Linked DNA regions of Homo sapiens: region 1 is linked to region 2. Evidence: fine-mapped expression QTL. Tissue or cell type: whole blood. Region 2 holds a variant in brackets; the other region holds the start of a gene. All regions are shown on one strand. Distances are from middle to middle.

What was found. PIP is the estimated chance that this variant, and not a neighbour inherited with it, causes the effect.
Region 1: it holds the start of PPP6R3, and the variant in region 2 is fine-mapped to the expression of PPP6R3 in whole blood (INTERVAL, PIP 0.92).

Annotation. Positions count from the first base shown.
Region 1 is chr11:68,457,343-68,465,442 of GRCh38, reverse strand. It overlaps PPP6R3 (protein phosphatase 6 regulatory subunit 3), which reads right to left and starts at 4,691. Exons shown (of 24, transcript NM_001164161.2): 1 at 4,616-4,691. RefSeq lists silencers at 4,231-4,340, 4,391-4,440, 4,451-4,820, 5,131-5,280 and an enhancer at 4,961-5,020.
Region 2 is chr11:68,411,204-68,419,303 of GRCh38, reverse strand. LRP5 (LDL receptor related protein 5) reads right to left here. Exons shown (of 23, transcript NM_002335.4): 11 at 7,684-7,868; 12 at 5,292-5,615; 13 at 2,777-2,976. Among named protein-coding and RNA genes, the nearest start is that of PPP6R3, 45 kb to the left of the region's middle. RefSeq lists enhancers at 182-1,105, 6,048-6,207 and a silencer at 1,670-1,739. The variant A/G (reference allele first, on the strand shown) is at 4,397.

The DNA.
Region 1 (8,100 bases), 46 kb before region 2:
AATCTAAATTTTAATATGAGCAAAAAAGATCTACCCTTCTCTCTACCACTGCATCTCATCTCCCCAGGAGAAAAGAACACTTCTCTGCTGGGATCAGAGTCTAGGGCACAGAAGAGTCCAACTTACCAGTGGGCAGGATCACTGTGTTAAAGGCTGAGCATACTGTATGCCTATCTGTGCCCTCAATGGGCAGAACTGGTAAACTGATCCAGGGCTAATTCTCTGGGAATAGGTCTTTATTAAAACAAAAACAAAAACAAAAAACAGGCATGGTGGCTCACGCCTGTAATCCCAGCACTTTGGGAGGCCGAGGCGGGCGGATCACTTGAGGTCAGGAGATCGGGACCAGCCTGGCCCACATGGTGAAACCCCATCTCTACTAAAAATACAAAAATGAGCCAGGTGTGGTGGCACGCACCTGTAATCCTAGCTACTCAGGAGGCTAAGGCAGGAGAATCACTTGAACCCAGGAGGCGGAGGTTGCAGTGAGCCAAGATCATGCCACTGCACTCCAGCCTGGGTGACATAGTGAGACTGTCTCCGAAAAAAAAAAAAAAAAGTTGAAGCTGGCATCTAAAACCAGACCTGACCACTGACTGACAAAAGGAGGGCAAAAGATACTAACTCAAAAATTACAGTAGTGTAAGATTATTCAGCACAGAAGCAAACTCTAAATATCTAAGAATTTTGCTTAGTTTCAGCACAGTATGGTAATGTATTTTCATGAGGTTAAGAAAAAAAAGTCCTAAGATATTTTATAAAATCAATTAACAAATGCTTCTAAAGTTCAGTCTTCAGGCATCTGAAAAATGGTTAAGTATACCATCTAAATAATCCCCACTACTAAATAATCTCCAAGGCAGGATCTAGGTACTGCAAAGACCAAGTTCACAGATCACCGAAAGGAACCCTTAACTCACAAACAGTCCCTAAACCTGTGGTGTAAAACAGTGGTTCCAAAATTCAGCTGCATTTCAGTATTGTCTGAGAAGCTTCTAAAAAATAGATTCTCGTGGCCGGGCATGGTAGCTCACACCTGTAATCCCAGCACTTTGGGAGGCCGAGGCGGGTAGATCACGAGGTCAGGAGTTCAAGACCACCCTGGCCAAGATGTGAAACTCCATCTCTACTAAAAATACAAAAAACAGCCGGGCATGGTGGCGGGTGCCTGTAATCCCCGCCACTAGGGAGGCTGAGGCAGAGAACTGCTTGAACCCAGGAGGCAGAGGTTGCAGTGAGCCGAGATGGCACCACCACACTCCAGCCTGGGCGACAGAGCTAGACTCATCTCAAAAAAAATTAATAAGATTCTCAATCCCACCATTTCCAGAGGTGGAGTCCAACATCCATGGTCTTAAAAAATTTCTAATTATTCTAATGCAGGCTTATTCTAATGTAGGCCAGTCTCACATCTATCTAAGTGCAGGATTTCTCAACCTCAGCAGTGTTGCTATTTGGGACTGGATACTTTTGCTGGCGGGCAGGGAGGAGGCTATGCTGGACACTGTAGGATGTTTAGCAGTATCCTTGGCCTCTACCCTCCAGAAGCACACTGCCCACTCCCAGAGGTGTAACAAGCAAAAATATGTCCAGACACTGCCAAATGTTTCCTGGGGGGTGAGGGGGGAACCACCCCCAACTGAGAACTCTTGAACTAGAGTAAATCAAAAGACAATCATTTGAAGTTAAGAAAGGAAAGAAATATGAAAGCTGTTTAAAGCCAAGAGGCCAGATCTTTTTTTCAGTACATTAGAAAAAGTAGCAGCCAATACTGGGGTGCAGACCATAACTTCTAAGGACCAAGTCAATGCTGAGTTTTAGTTGAGCAGATAGAAGAGCTTTATTTTCACTATCATTTACTCTTATTTAGTAAAATACTGTAAAATTTTAGACCAAAACACACACACACACAAACACACACAGAGGCTGCCTCTCAAATACTGAAAATATAGAACTAGACAATGGAAGTTGTCATAGAAATAAAATACCGATCGTGACACTTGTTTTAAAGAGATGTTTATTTGTAACAAGCACATAATCTACCAAATAGGTGCAAAGCCCTATCTTTTTTTTTTTTTTTTTTTTTTCTGAGACTGAGTCTCGCTCTGTCTCCTAGGCTGGACTTGGCTCACTGCAACCTCCGCCTCCCAGGTTTAAGCGATTCTCCTGCCTCAGCCTCCCAAATAACTGGGATTACAGTCACACGCCACCATGACCGACTAATTTTTGTATTTTTAATAGAGACAAGGTTTCACATGTTGGCCTGGTCTCGAACTCCTGACCTTAAGTGATCCGCCAGCCTCGGCCTCCCAAAGTGCTGGGATTACAGGCGTGAGCCACTGCGCCCGGCCAAAGCTTTATCTTAAAAAGCTAGGCAACCTCATCCTGTCAATGTTACTTCTATTCATTTTCTGCTCAGCTATGGTCTGATTCTCAAATTCTCAATTAGTTCATTGAAACTAACAACTTTTTGCTTGTTGACTTTGCTTTGCTATACTTTACACAAAGGCTAGAGTTCTAAACCGAAAACAATCTTCTTCCTGTCCTTAAGTTCCACCAGCAAGATACTCATCTCTACTTAAGACTGAGTCCATCAAAACACACATCTCCAATACAGCAAACCAAGTCCCAAGTAAACACAACAATACCAGGGGAAGGTGCACGCAAGGTTTCGAGCACCATGGAGGAGAGTATCGGGCAAGCGGTAAAGGATTGTGAGTTTATTTCTGACTGAGTGCAGGCATTTTGTTCAATGTTCTAGACTCCCTGACCAGACATGCTGAAGTGGAGAATACCTTCCAAAGTATCCCTCCAGGACAAAAGCTATTTCCCAAACTATCTTTGCTGAAGAATACTGCAATCCACGGCACCCTTACAGTTTTCAGTAACAAGGAGGACTTACACTAAGAAACCCTAGTTACTGATTCGGGTGGCAGTCACCCAGAAACTAGTATCCAAAAGCACATGAGGAACAAAGCCCGACTTAAGCTTGTGATGGGCTTTTCTGTATTTAACCATCTCTTTAAACATTATGAGGCGCTACTACTCATTAATTACTCCGGTAAATGTTCCTAATTTAAGGAATGGTCAAAAACCCTGTCCTGAAAAAATTAAAATAACTTATAGTTTTACTTTTTCAGCCCAACTGAGTCTTACACAGAGCTTTCTAAAGGCAGTCACCAAGAGTCGGGACTCAAATGCTCATCTGACTTCCCAATAGTACCTAAACATTTAAAAATCAAATTTAAATTAAACAATAATAGCCATTAACTAGCCTAACCACTAATCAGCCACTGAGGTGACTGTATGTGCCAGGCACAGCTCTAGCTGTTTTACATGTATTAGGGCAATTATCCTGACAAACTTATGGCTGGGACACTTATTATTATTCCCATACTACAGAGAAAAAAAAAGAGAAGCTGGGTAACTTGCCCAAGGTCACAGAGCTAAAAAGTGGTCACTGACTCCACTCCACAGTGAGGAAAACCCAACCACCACCATAACTGGGTCTCATACACTTGCTACTTGAGGCACAGTTCGGTGGTTGGAAACCTGGAGTCCCTGTCCCCCTTGAAGCCTATCTGCAACATGACCTTGAGGACAAAATCAAAGTAAACGTCCCACGAATAAAGGACACCACCCCGTCAACAAGTGCTGCGAGGATGAAAGGGAACGCCTGTCAAGCACCCCCTCCCATAAAAGCAAAACAGACCCAAAGCCCCACAGAGAAAACGTGAAGTACCAGGAAAATGACATTAAGTCACGCGGTTGAAACGTCAGGGCACGGAGGTACATCCAAAGACCCATCCCGTTCACCTATAATTAAAAAGTCTAAATTGTGATCACAGCCAGCAGGACCTCAACAGGAAACACCTCCAAGTAAACAGTGAATGGGCTTCTTTAAGAGGGAGGGACTTCAAGCCACAAGAAGGACCACCCACCCCCCCCACCCCCGGCTCAAATACACCAGGGAGGCATTCGAGACAGTTTACATACAAGCCACCTCACAGGAGTTAAAAAGCCACTGGGAAGGGTACTGGGAGCCTCGGAACTGGCTGGTGTGGATCCCGATGACTCTGCGGCGAATTAACAGAAACCCACAAAACTTGTTTCCCGAAGAGCAGAGTCCAACAATGGTCTTCGCGACTCTTGACGGCGAGTTGCTGCCTCAACTTGACGCGCTCCCCGAGGCCCCCGGGAGGCCCAGCGGGAGCGGAGACCGGGCGCGGGCCGGGCGGGGGGCGAGACTGCGGGCCGCGGCCGGCGGGCGGGAAGGCTGGAGCCAGAGCCGGGTCAGGGGCGCGCCTCGCCCGCCCGCCGCGCCAGGCCGCGAACGTCAACGAGGCACAAAGTCGCCGCCCCGACCGCGTCCCGCTCCCGGCGCCCGTCCTGGCGGGGCCCCCGGCTAACAGGAGCGGACGGGGAGCGGCCGGGAAGGACTCGGCGCCGCGCCTCCCGGGCCCGCGGAGCGACGAATTCCGGGGGGGGAGGGGAGAGGGGCCGGGACGTTCCCTCCCTGAGCCGCTGAGGCCAGGTGGAGGGGCCCCGCGCCTGCCCGCGCGCCTCGCACACCCCGCGCCGCGGCCTGCTCCGGCGCCTCCCCTACCCCCATTACCTGGAGGTGCCCACGACCCGCCGCTAGTTGCGCTCAGGCGGGAAACGCGCTCACCGACACCATCAGCGAAGCGCCCAAAATGGCGGACGTATCAAGCAGGCCTTGAGTTCCCCCCCGCCCGCCCTCTGGCCGCCTCTCAGCCAATCGCGGCCCTGCCCCCGCCCCCAGCTCCAGGCTCATTGGCCCCTCTCTCCCGCCCCCTACTACCTATTGGATCGCCTAGCGGCTCCTTTGACTACATTCCGATTGGCCCGCAAGCCTCGTCAGTCAAGCGCGAGGGGCGCATTCTTTTCCCATGGACTTGACGGATCCGGAACCTCTAGGACCCCGGAGCCTGAGAAACAAATCAGAAACGGGGAGAAACCTGGCTGGGACCCCCTACGCCGTAGCAACAGCAGGTCCTCCGCTTGACGGACGCTTCGGACCACCAATCCGAGTGGCCAATGCTTTTTAAAACTAAATTGAGCCAAGCCCATCATGGCCGTGGAGCCGGAGCCGTGAGGGATCCAATAGGGTGGCGAGCTGGCCGGGCGGGGCGGGGGCGGCGGGGGACACCGGTGGTGACGTGAGCCACAATATGCGCCGGCTGCAAAGGTTAGGCCGGGCTAGGGAATCAGCTTAAGTGGAGGAGCGTTCGTTTAGTATGTGAGAGGTAACGGGATCGATGCCTGCATTCTCCACAGGGGAATTTTTATCAGAATGATTTCCCATTGCGATCTCTTTACCTGAAAGAGGTGGCTGTCCTCGTAGCGGGGTCAAGGTGAGGGATCGCGGAATATCCCTACCTGTGACGCACCGCCAAGAGATAAGTGCCCTTGTCCTGGGAGAAGGACTTAGACGAGAACTTTTGGGGTTTGGTTTTGTTTGAGACGGAGTTTCCCTGTTGTCCCCCAGGCTGGAGTGCAGTGGTGCGACCTCAGCTCATTGCAACCTCCGCCTCCCAGGTTCAAGCAGTTCTGTCTCAGCCTCCCGTGTAGCTGGGATTACAAGTGCACGCCACCATGCCCGGCTAATTTTTGTATTTTTAGAAGAGACGGGTGTTTCACCATGTTGGCCAGGCTGGTCTCGAACTCCTGACCTCAGGTGATCCGCCCACCTCAGCCTCCCAAAGTGCAGGGGTTATAGGGGTGAGCCACCGCGCCTGGCCTGGGGTCTTTTTTGAGACAAGGTCTTGCTCTGTTGTCCAGGCTGGAGTGCAGTGGGGTGATCATGACTCACTGCAGCCTCCACCTCCTGGGCTCAAGCAGTCCCCCCACCTCAGCCTCCCGAGTAGCTGGGACCATAGGCACGCACCACTGGGCCCCGCTAATTTAATTTTTTTGTAGAGACAGGGTTTCCCTGTGCACACGAGCTTCTAAATGCTCCCCCGGGCTTCCCGTTCCCCGCCATATCTGTGCCTCCCAGGTAGGACCGAGGTCCCGGACATCAGGACCCCCGCCCCAAGAGCCAGCCCAGGACACCGAGACAGCCCACGGTTAGACCCCATGCTAATAACCTGCCTTATTCCAAAATGGATTTGAGGCGCCTCTCAGAGTCCCATGAAAATCCACAGGAGGTCACGGCGCGGTCACGCCTGTAATCCCAGCACTTTGGGAGGCGGAGGCGGGTGGATCACGAGGTCAGGAGATCGAGACCATCCTGGCTAACACGGTGAAACCCCGTCTCTACTAAAAATACAAAAAGAAAAAAAAAATAGCCGGGCGCAGTGGCGGGCGCCTGTAGTCCCAGCTACTCAGGAGGCTGAGGCAGGAGAATGGCGTGAACCCGGAAGGCGGAGCTTGCAGTGAGCCGAGATTGCACCACTGAACTCTAGACTCGACGACAGAGCGAAACTCTGTCTCAAAAAATAAATAAATAAATAAAAACAAAAAAGACTGGTCTCATAAGATTATGATATTGTAGTTGTACTGGACTTTTTTTTTTTTTTTTTTTGAGATGGAGTCTTGCTCTGTCGCCCAGGCTGGAGTACAATGGGGCGATCTCAGCTCACTGCAACCTCTGCCTCCTGGGTTCAAGCAATTCTCCCTGCCTCAGCCTCCCCAGTAGCTGTAATTACAGGTGCATGCCACCATGTCCCACTAATTTTTGTATTTTTAGTAGAGATGGGGGTTTCACCATGTTGACCAGGCTGGTCTTGAACTCCTGACCTCAGGTGATCCACCCACCTTAGCCTCCCAAAGTGCTGGGATTACAGGCGTAAGCCACCGCGCCCAGCTGTACTGGATCTTTTCTATGTTTAGATACACAAATATTTACCATTGTGTTACAGCTGCTTTCAGTATTCAGCACAGTAACATGCTGTATGGATGTGTAGTCTAGGAGCGATAGGCTATCCCATATAGCCCAGGTGTGTAGTAGGCTAGACCATCTGGGTTTGTGCTAAGTATACCTGTGATGTTTGCAAAGGACAAAATTGCCTAACGATGCATTTCTCAGAACACGTCTCTGTTGTTAACTGTACTAAGCCATTTTATATATGGGACTTGAGAATCCTTGGGGGTCCCAGAAGCAATCTCCCACGGATACAGAGGGACAACTGTATCTACCAGCCCGTGTACGCGCCACGAAAAGTACTGTGCTTCTGGGGAGGCTGCAGACAGGGCAGACCTTTCTCACATTGATCCTGCTACTCAGAGAGGCATGGAGGAACATAGTCAAGCCGGAAGCCAGCCTGGGAGGTGTGCTCTGTGTGGGGGTTAGGGAGGGGATTCACAGGCTGATCACCTGGGCAGGGCGGGAGCGGCCATGCCAGGGAAAGAGGCCGAGGCAGCAAGGTGGAAGGAGCACACCCCGTGGAAGGCAGGGTGGGGCTGATCTCAGGTCTGGGGCAACAGCTCGAGAAGCAGGTGCAGAAGGGACCATGGAGGCTTTGGAAGCCAGGCGGAGGAACCTGGGTTTATGCTCAGACCATGGGAGCCAAGGAAAGCTTCCGGGCAGAAGAAGGGCTGGCCATACTCTAGAGAAGATGGCTGGAAGCGAGAGCAGGGAGCACCAGGTGTAGCACAGGGCCAGAGGGGCAGCTTGGAGCTGGACTAAGGAGCCCAGGAAAGGTTTCAGAGAGTCCTGGGACTGGCTGGTGCCTGAGAGGGAGGCTGGGCCATGGGCAGGAGGGGGCAGCCAGGGCTGGGCTCCCGTCCGTCCTTCCGTGCTGGGGAGCCCAGGGAGGACCCAACACCCCCACCGACCCTTGCATCCCTATACTCACTCATCATCAAAGGATTTGCCAGTATCTGCACCAGGCTCCTCCATCCCTGACTCTGAGGTGGGTCACAGGGCCATATACATTATAATGAAATCATATAGTACCTTGCCCAACGTAAGTGGGCCCCTAAGGTCTCCACTTATGGTTTGCTTCTAACCTAACCAGAAGGTTGAAGTCAGGGAGGACTTCCTGGAGGAGGAGGTATCTGAGCTCAGCCTGGGTCCTGAGAGCCATGGGGAGCTACTGACAGGCTTTAAGCAGAGGAATGACTTAGAAGCTTTGC
Region 2 (8,100 bases):
CCATGATCGCACCACTGCACTCCAGCCTGGGCACTGGGGTGAGACCCTGTCTCAAAAACAACAATAACAAAACAATTAAAATGGCAAATTTTATGTTATATATATTTACCACAATAAAAAATAAAAACAATTAATAGAAAACAAAACCTCGGCCAATTGGATGATAATTTAGACACCATCTTTTGGGGGAGCAGGGGGACTCCTAATAAAGAATCAAAGCCAGAGTCCACAGAGCGGGGAGGCTGCAGGAGGCTGGACCTTAGCAAAAGACACAGGAGGGGAAAAGCACATTTTCCAAATTAAGTGGAAAACCTTCTGGGTTTTCTTCCAAGTCTTCATCACTTCTGCCTAGCAGACACCATAAAAGAACGCAGCTCCAGTGAAACTCTAAGGCAATGTACGCCCAGGAGCTTTCTCAGCATGGGAGCCACATCCATCAATTAACACGTCCCTCTCTCCAAAGGACTCCACGTGACAGTCACCTGTAGCAAGCAAGATGAAAGGAATCCATTTCCACCACCCACACCACAGCAGAGGCAATGATCACAGCTGCCCAGGAGAGAAGCTCCAGGGAGCCAGGCATGGCTCTGAATTTCAATTCGGCTGACTTTTGCCATCAACCAAGGACACAGACCTCACAGTACAACGTAACTAGAAACTGCTGCGGGAGGAAGGATCTGGTGGAAAGGGGCGTCCAGCCTGTCTGGACGGCACCAGCCTTCAGATGGGGAGCACAACAGCGAAACCGACGGCGGACATGGCGACCCATGTGAAAGTCTCTCCAGGCGCTCAGCCTCTCTCTGCCTCAAGAAAGTACCAAGATTTCACCACAATAACACAAGCTCCCACACCAACACTCGGTGGAGAAAGAGGCCGTGTGGCTCTGTAGGTTTTTTTTTTTTGAGATGGCGTCTCGCTCTGTTGCCCAGGCTGGAGTGCAATGACATGGTCTCAGATCCCTGCAACCTCCACCTCCCAGGTTCAAGCAATTCTGCCTCAGCCTCCCGAGTAGCTGGGACTACAGGCGCGTGCCACCACACCCAGCTAATTTTCGTATATTTAGTAGAGATGGGGTTTCACCATGTTGGCCAGGCTGGTCTTGAACTCCTGACCTCGTGATCCACCCACTTCGGCCTCCCAAAGTGCTAGGATACAAGCGGGCTCTGCAGTTTTTGTAAAAGAAGGCTGCTTAGGAGCCAGGCCTGTCCTGGAATTCTACACTAATGAACCTGTTGTGCCCCATGCTGCAGACTCCAGGTGGGCCTGAGGCCGCCGTGAGCACATCATTTGTGGAACAGGCCACACAAGCCTGACTCCGCAAAGTGCTCACTTCCGCTACAGCACTTGTTTTTCTATTTTTTATTTTTTGAGATGGAGTTTTGCTCTTGTTGCCCAGGCTGGAGTGCAATGGTGTGATCTCGGCTCACCGCAACCTCTGCCTCCTGGGTTCAAGCAATTCTCCTGCCTCAGCCTCCTGAGTAGCTGGGATTACAGGCACCCGCCACCACACCCAGCTGATTTTTGTATATTCAGTAGAGACGGGGTTTCACCATGTTGGCCAGGCTGGTCTCGAACCCCTGACCTCAGGTGATCCACCTGCCTCGGCCTCCCACAGTGCTGGGATTACAGGTGTGAGCCACCGCGCCCAGCCTAGCAGTTGTTTCAAAAATGCAAATCTGGCCGGCCGCGGTGGCTCATGCCTGTAATCCCAGTTACTCAGGAGGCTGAGGCAGGAAAATCACTTGAACATAGGAGGCAAAGGTTGCAGTGAGCCAAGATCATGCCACTGCACTCCAGGCTGGTGACAGAGTGAGACTCCATCTCAAAAAAAAAAAAAAAAAAAAAAAAAAAAAAGCCAATCTGTTCCAATGCAATGATGTATTAGGACAATTTGAGCACAGCACGGTTTCACATTTGCTCATGCACAATTTCCTCCACGAGAAACATTAAGTGAATGCAAAAAACTACAGCCGGCAGGGAACTGCGCAGGGTCACACCCACACACACACCTCCGTCTCTGACCTCCCTGGGCTCACTGCTGGGGCCATGACCCACTCTTCTCCACGCCTGGGGTGAGAACTTTCCATTTGATTTCCCACAATCCTCCTTCCAGTGTTTCACAAAAACTCATGCGCTACACCCTTCCACACTCATAAGCCAACTCCAGATCTTCCCAAGGTGAAGTGCCGTATTTATTGCAGCATTAACGTTTACGAATGCACAGTATTGTGGGATATAGCTAACCATTTAATGTGCAAAAGGCACTTTGCTATTTCCCAGGTTCCTCTCTTTTCTTACATGTCATTGATGGAGATTTTGAGGGCTGTGCCCTGGCCCCGCTTTCCCTATGAGTTGTGTCATTTTTACTGTGCGATTTTGCATAGGTGTCTTTCAGAAGAGCATATACAGCATTGTAGCAGAAATGACTGTACAGTTCCCACAAAATAAAGGATAAACCTGGATTAACCAGTACCAACTACCCCTGCATGACACACGACCATTTTCTTTCTTGAAAAGACAAAAGTCCTGTGGGGTCTGACCCCACCATGACTACTTAAACAACGGGGAAACCCAGTTTCTACATATAATCACAGTCTCGGGGTTCCACGCATCTCAGGGTCATACCCTGTGACTACATAATCGAAGCCCAAGTCATCATTCACCCAGAGCCATCCTCTGTTTCCTCCCTCTGCTAAGGACAGGGGCAGCAGCCTGGAAACCAGCAAGAGGAGCGCCTTGGGAAGCACACCCCGCACCCTTCCCACAGGGCACCTGCCTGGGTCCCGTCGTCCTTGGCTCGCTTGATGTTCTGGCGCCCATCCACCCAGTAGATGAACTTGTCCAGTGGGTCATAGTCGATGGCTTTGACGTTCCTCAGTCCATGCAGGGGCAGGATGAGATCCGGGCTGTGCTGGTCGTCCGGGATCATCCGACTGATGGCAGATTTCTGGCTGAACAGCAAGAAGGTGGTGGGCGCTAGAGGAGGCAAAGACAGGGCTGCAGGTGGGTGTCTGTAAGCCACAGAGGAGCTGGAGGACGGGATAGCACGCCACTCGACAACAGGCGGCTCAGCATCTGCCCCGCTGGAGGTCCACGGGAAAGACGGGGGGACCAGGGCTGTCTCTTGGGGGTGCGCTATGGGGAATTTCATTCTCCGTGTCATATGTGTCTCTGCTGTTTCAAAGTACATGTGTTATTTTTGAAATAGATCATAAATTTATTTTTCTTTTATTTATTTATTTTTTTTTTGAGATGGAGTCTCGCACTGTTGCCCACGCTGGACTGCAGTGGTGCTATCTGGGCTCACTGTAAGCTCTGCCTCTCGGGTTCACGCCATTCTCCTGCCTCAGCCTCCTGAGTAGCTGGGACTACAGGCGCCCGTCACCACGCCTGGCTCATTTTTTGTATTTTTAGTAGAGACGGGTTTCACCGTGTTAGCCAGGATGGTCTCGATCTCCTGACCTTGTCATCCGCCCGCCTTGGCCTCCCAAAGTGCTGGGATTACAGGTGTGAGCCACTACGCCCTGCCATTCATTCATTCATTCATTCATTCATTCGAGATGGAGTTTCGCTCTTGTTGCCCAGGCTGGAGTGCAGTGGCACAAAATGAGCTCACTTGAAACTTCCACCTCCCAAGTTCAAGCGATTCTCCTCTCTCAGCCTCCCAAGTAGCTGGGATTATAGGCATGCCCCACCATGCCCGGCTAATTTTGTATTTTTAGTAGAGATGGAGTTTCACCATATTGGCCAGGCTGGTCTTGAACTCCTGACCTCAGGTGATCTGCCCGCCTCAGCCTCCCAAAGTGCTGGGATAACAGTCATGAGCCACCGTGTCCAGCCCAATAAATTTATTTTTAAATGATGAACACTTAAGACGGAAGGCAGGTAATGGTAGTGAACACTGGTGGTGGAATGTAGTGAAACTCATACCCACGACTGTGTGTGCGGTTTGCTATGTGCCTATGTGTGCACCAGTGAACTGCGGAAAACCGGGCACAGTCAACAAGCCCGAGAGAAGACACTCCTCGAGGGTGTCAGTGAGCAGCACATGCCACCACAAGGCAGCCCCAGAATCAAGCTGGGCCTCCTCTCAGTGCACTGGTACCAGGATCCGAAGAACCAGCTCTCTAGCAGAACCAGAACATCCGTTGGCCTCTCCCTCTCAACAGCTAACAGAGTCTCCTGGCCTGAGTCCTGCCTGGCTTCAGAAGCTGTGGCACTTCGAGCGCACCGTCAGCGGGCTACAGTGGCTGGTCTGAAATCCAAGTCGTTGCACCAGGTACTGCCGGCCACAGGACGGGGACTCTGAGTCATGGCAACCCCTCCTTGCCGTGGGTTACCTGCACCTCCATTTGGCTCTCTAAGGTCATGGCCCCAGGGAGGGATGGTGAGCAAC[A/G]GGACCAAAGACAGCCCAGGCATGGGAAGTCCCAGACTCTGGCCCAGGCCCATCTCCTGCCAGCCTGGGCCTCGAACAGCCCCTTAACCTTTGCAAGCCTCAAGTTCCCCATCCATGCAGCTGGGACAGGCAAGACCAGCCCCGCCTGCGACCAGGTCTGCGTGAGACTCCAACGGGGCCTGGATGACAAAGAGCTTTATAAACTATCAAGTTCTGCGTAGGGAATCATAACCAGCTCGCTGCTGATGTCATGGGGGAAGAGCCCGCCAACAGGAAACACCTGTACTCCAGAGGGGCCATAGGAAAGTCACTCTTCTCATCACTGACATGAGAACAAAGAGGCCCACCTGCTTCCAAGGGTCAGGGCAAAAATTCCCCGAGCTGATGCCAGGCTGCCTGGCAAGGGTTCAGGAGCAGGGACTCTTGAGCCAGCCTGCCACAGTCAACCCCGGCTCAACCCACCCCAGTTGTATGGCCTTGGATGGGTTGCCACACCTCTCTGTGCATCGGGTTCCTTGTACGTGAAATGGGACCATGCTACTCCCCACCCTCCAGGCTTGAGGAGTAAACGAGCGCTATGGAAAGCACTCAGCACTGTGCTGGCAGTATGAGCAAGCACCCTTCCCCTGTGACTGGTTTTCACACCCAAAGATCCTGCCCAGGACCTTCCAGCTGAGGAGTTTTGGCCATTTATCTATGTCCTGATGAAGCAACAAGTCCATCCAGCCTGGACCTGGACCCCCAGGTAGCATCATGCAGCTTGTGCAGTGCACAACCTACCCAACCATCTATGTACACCCAGGAACCCCAGATGAGAAGCTCCTTTCAGCGTCAGCTCCCAGAACCAGCCTGATCTAACGAGGGAGTGAGGTGCGGGGGACCATGAGGCACTTACGGCTGCAGTTGCGGCTGCTGGGGTCCAGGGTGTAGTGTGAGGCGCAGCCGCAGCGGTGGCCGCCGGGGATGGCAAGGCACAGCTGCCCACACTGCCCGTTGTTGTGCATACAGTCATTGAGGCCATCCTGGCGGGAGGAGTGGAACACCAGGATGTCCATCACGAAGTCCAGGTGGCCCTGGATGAGGGTGCGGTTCCGGCCGCTAGTCTTGTCGGCCCGCTCAATGCTGTGCAGATTCCAGTCTGTCCAGTAGATATAATCGCTGTACTGCGTCAGACCGAACGGGTGCGGGAGATCGTCGGCAATCACGACCCGCTCCTGACCTGCATGAACACACACGGGCACGGTGTCAGCAAAGGCACAGCCAGGCCACAGAGCACACGGCGCCCTGCGGGGTGAGCCAGGGTTCAACCCTGCAGCCTAGCGACCACATGAATGCCTTAAAGTGTTTGGCCACCTTGGAAAACCAGCAAGATCCACTGAAGCGCAGGCAGGATCTAGCAAAATTAAGTGACCTGGCTACAGTCACACAGTTGCTAAGTGGCAGGGCCAGGATTACCACCCAGGCAGCGAGACTCCAGGTTCTTGTTCTCATCATGTCAGGCCTGGCTGTGCATCCTTCACTCCCACAGCAATGAGACCAGGCCTTCCATGTTATTAATCAAGCACTCAGTAAACATCCGGAGCGTTTAAGTCCAAAACACGTACCGAGGAGTGACGGCCAGGCTGCAATGCACATGGCCGCCCTCATTGGCAGGGTCACATGAGTTTCCAGGGCTTTTGCTGGTTTTCATCTGAGTCTGTCCTCACTCCGGGGTGATTAATGAGCTTAATCATTTCAGGCAACCACAGCTGTGCGGTGACTGGTTTCTCGCCTGGCAACAGGTTTGCATGCGGCCTGGATGAGCTGGGTCACGGGATGTGCTGCAGAGCTGGGTGACGGTCACGAAGTCACGTGCAAACCTTGCTACTGGCCTCACAAGTCAGGGTGCAGCCCACCCCCAGCGACAACCAGGACACGGGGTTCAACTGCCAGCTCTGCCTACGCAGTACCTGGGACAAGGCATTCAGCTGGTCGATGCCCCAGCCTCCTCATCTGTAAAATGGGCACAACCACACCCAGTGCAGATGGCGAGTAGGAGAGGCAGAGGTCAGAAGCCAAATTCTTGCTGCCCTTCCTGAGCGGTTCGACATGGCTGACGTGCTCAGAGGCTCTCCTAGGGCCAAGGTCACTGAAGGTCCCTTTGCCAGGGGACAAAAGTCAGGGCTGCCCAGGTGACCCTCTCCTCCCTTGTCTGCCCTCAAGCCAAGGGGTGCCTGGGGACTTGGAGCCTCAGAGCTTCTTTTTCTTCTTCTTTTTTTTTTTTTGGAGACGGTCTCACTCTATTGCCCAGGCTGGAGTGCAGTGGCATGATCACAGCTCACCACAACCTCAACCTCCTGGGCTCAAGCAATCCTCCCACCTGAGCCTCCCAAGTAGCTTGGACTACAGGCATGAACCACCATGCCCAGCTAATTTTTAAAAAATTTTTTTGTAGAGATGGCGTCTCACTACATTACCCAGGCTGATCTTGAACTCCTGGGCTCAAATCATCTGCCCGCCTTGGCCTCACAAAGTGCTGGGATTAGAGGTGTCAGCCACTGCACCTGGCCCTTCAGAGCTTCTGCCCCTGACCTTCTAGTCTCCCAACTTGGCAGGGGGGATGGGGGTTCCTTTGTTAAGCACAGTTGCCCCTGTCACCTGCCATATCACCCAGGACAGCTAACTACTCTAGCAGAACAGAGTGTGCGGTCCCCTTTTCTGGGTTCAAATCCTGCTCCTGTTGCTGTGTGACTTGGGATAGGTTTTTTTCAAACTTCCCTGAGCCTCATTCTCATGATCTGGAAAAAGGAGATGAGAGCACCAGCCCTGGGGTCCCGGGCGTGTGGACACTCCCAGCACAATCCCAGCACATGGTGGGGTTCAGGGCTGGGTGGGGATCGAGTGCTGGCCCTGGTATCTCTGGGGGATCCTGAACTCACCAGCTATGTGACCTAAGGCAAGTCATGTGCTCAGGCCTCAGCTTCCCCAGCAATGAAAACCACCATGTGTGTTAGGGTGAAATTAGAGTCCTGGCACAGGGATTAGCTGGGACCTAGTGCCCAGCAGGTGCACAGGAAACAGCTGTCACCAGAGCCTCTCCCGACATAACTGCAGCAAAGGCACCCAGGGGTGGACGGGGACAACTCCCACAGCAGAGGGTGAGGCTGCTGGGCAGTCGTGGGTGTGGCCACAGCTCCTGCCAGGTTGGGGAACTTGCAGGCCACAGGGTATGTGCGGCGAGGCTGGGAGGTGGCCAACGCCCGGCTGCCCCGCCCTCCATGACCAGAAGGCCCCAGCCCGGCCCTCACCCAGCATGTTGGACGACTCGATCATGTTGGTGTCCAGGTCGGTCCAGTAGAGGCGCTGGTCAGCGTAGTCAATGGTGAGGTCGTTGGCCCGGCCCACCTTGTCCACCAGCGTCATGCAGTTGGTCCCGTCCATGAAGGCCCGCACGATCCTCGGCTTGCCGCCCCACTCGGTCCAGTAGATGTAGCTGGAAGGCACAAGGGAGAAGGGCAGGCTCAGTGAGTCTGCTCTCACCGCAGGACAGTGGGTGGCGGGGGGACGCAACTGTCCCCACCTCTTCAGCTCAGCCCTCCCCGTCCTGGAGAAAGCCACGCGCAGGAAGCAGGGAAGGGCGAGACCCTCGACCCCTGCCACACACATATCCCTCCAGGGGTGGTCACTGCGCCACCTCCCTGAATTCCCACAGTGGCTCACTCGTA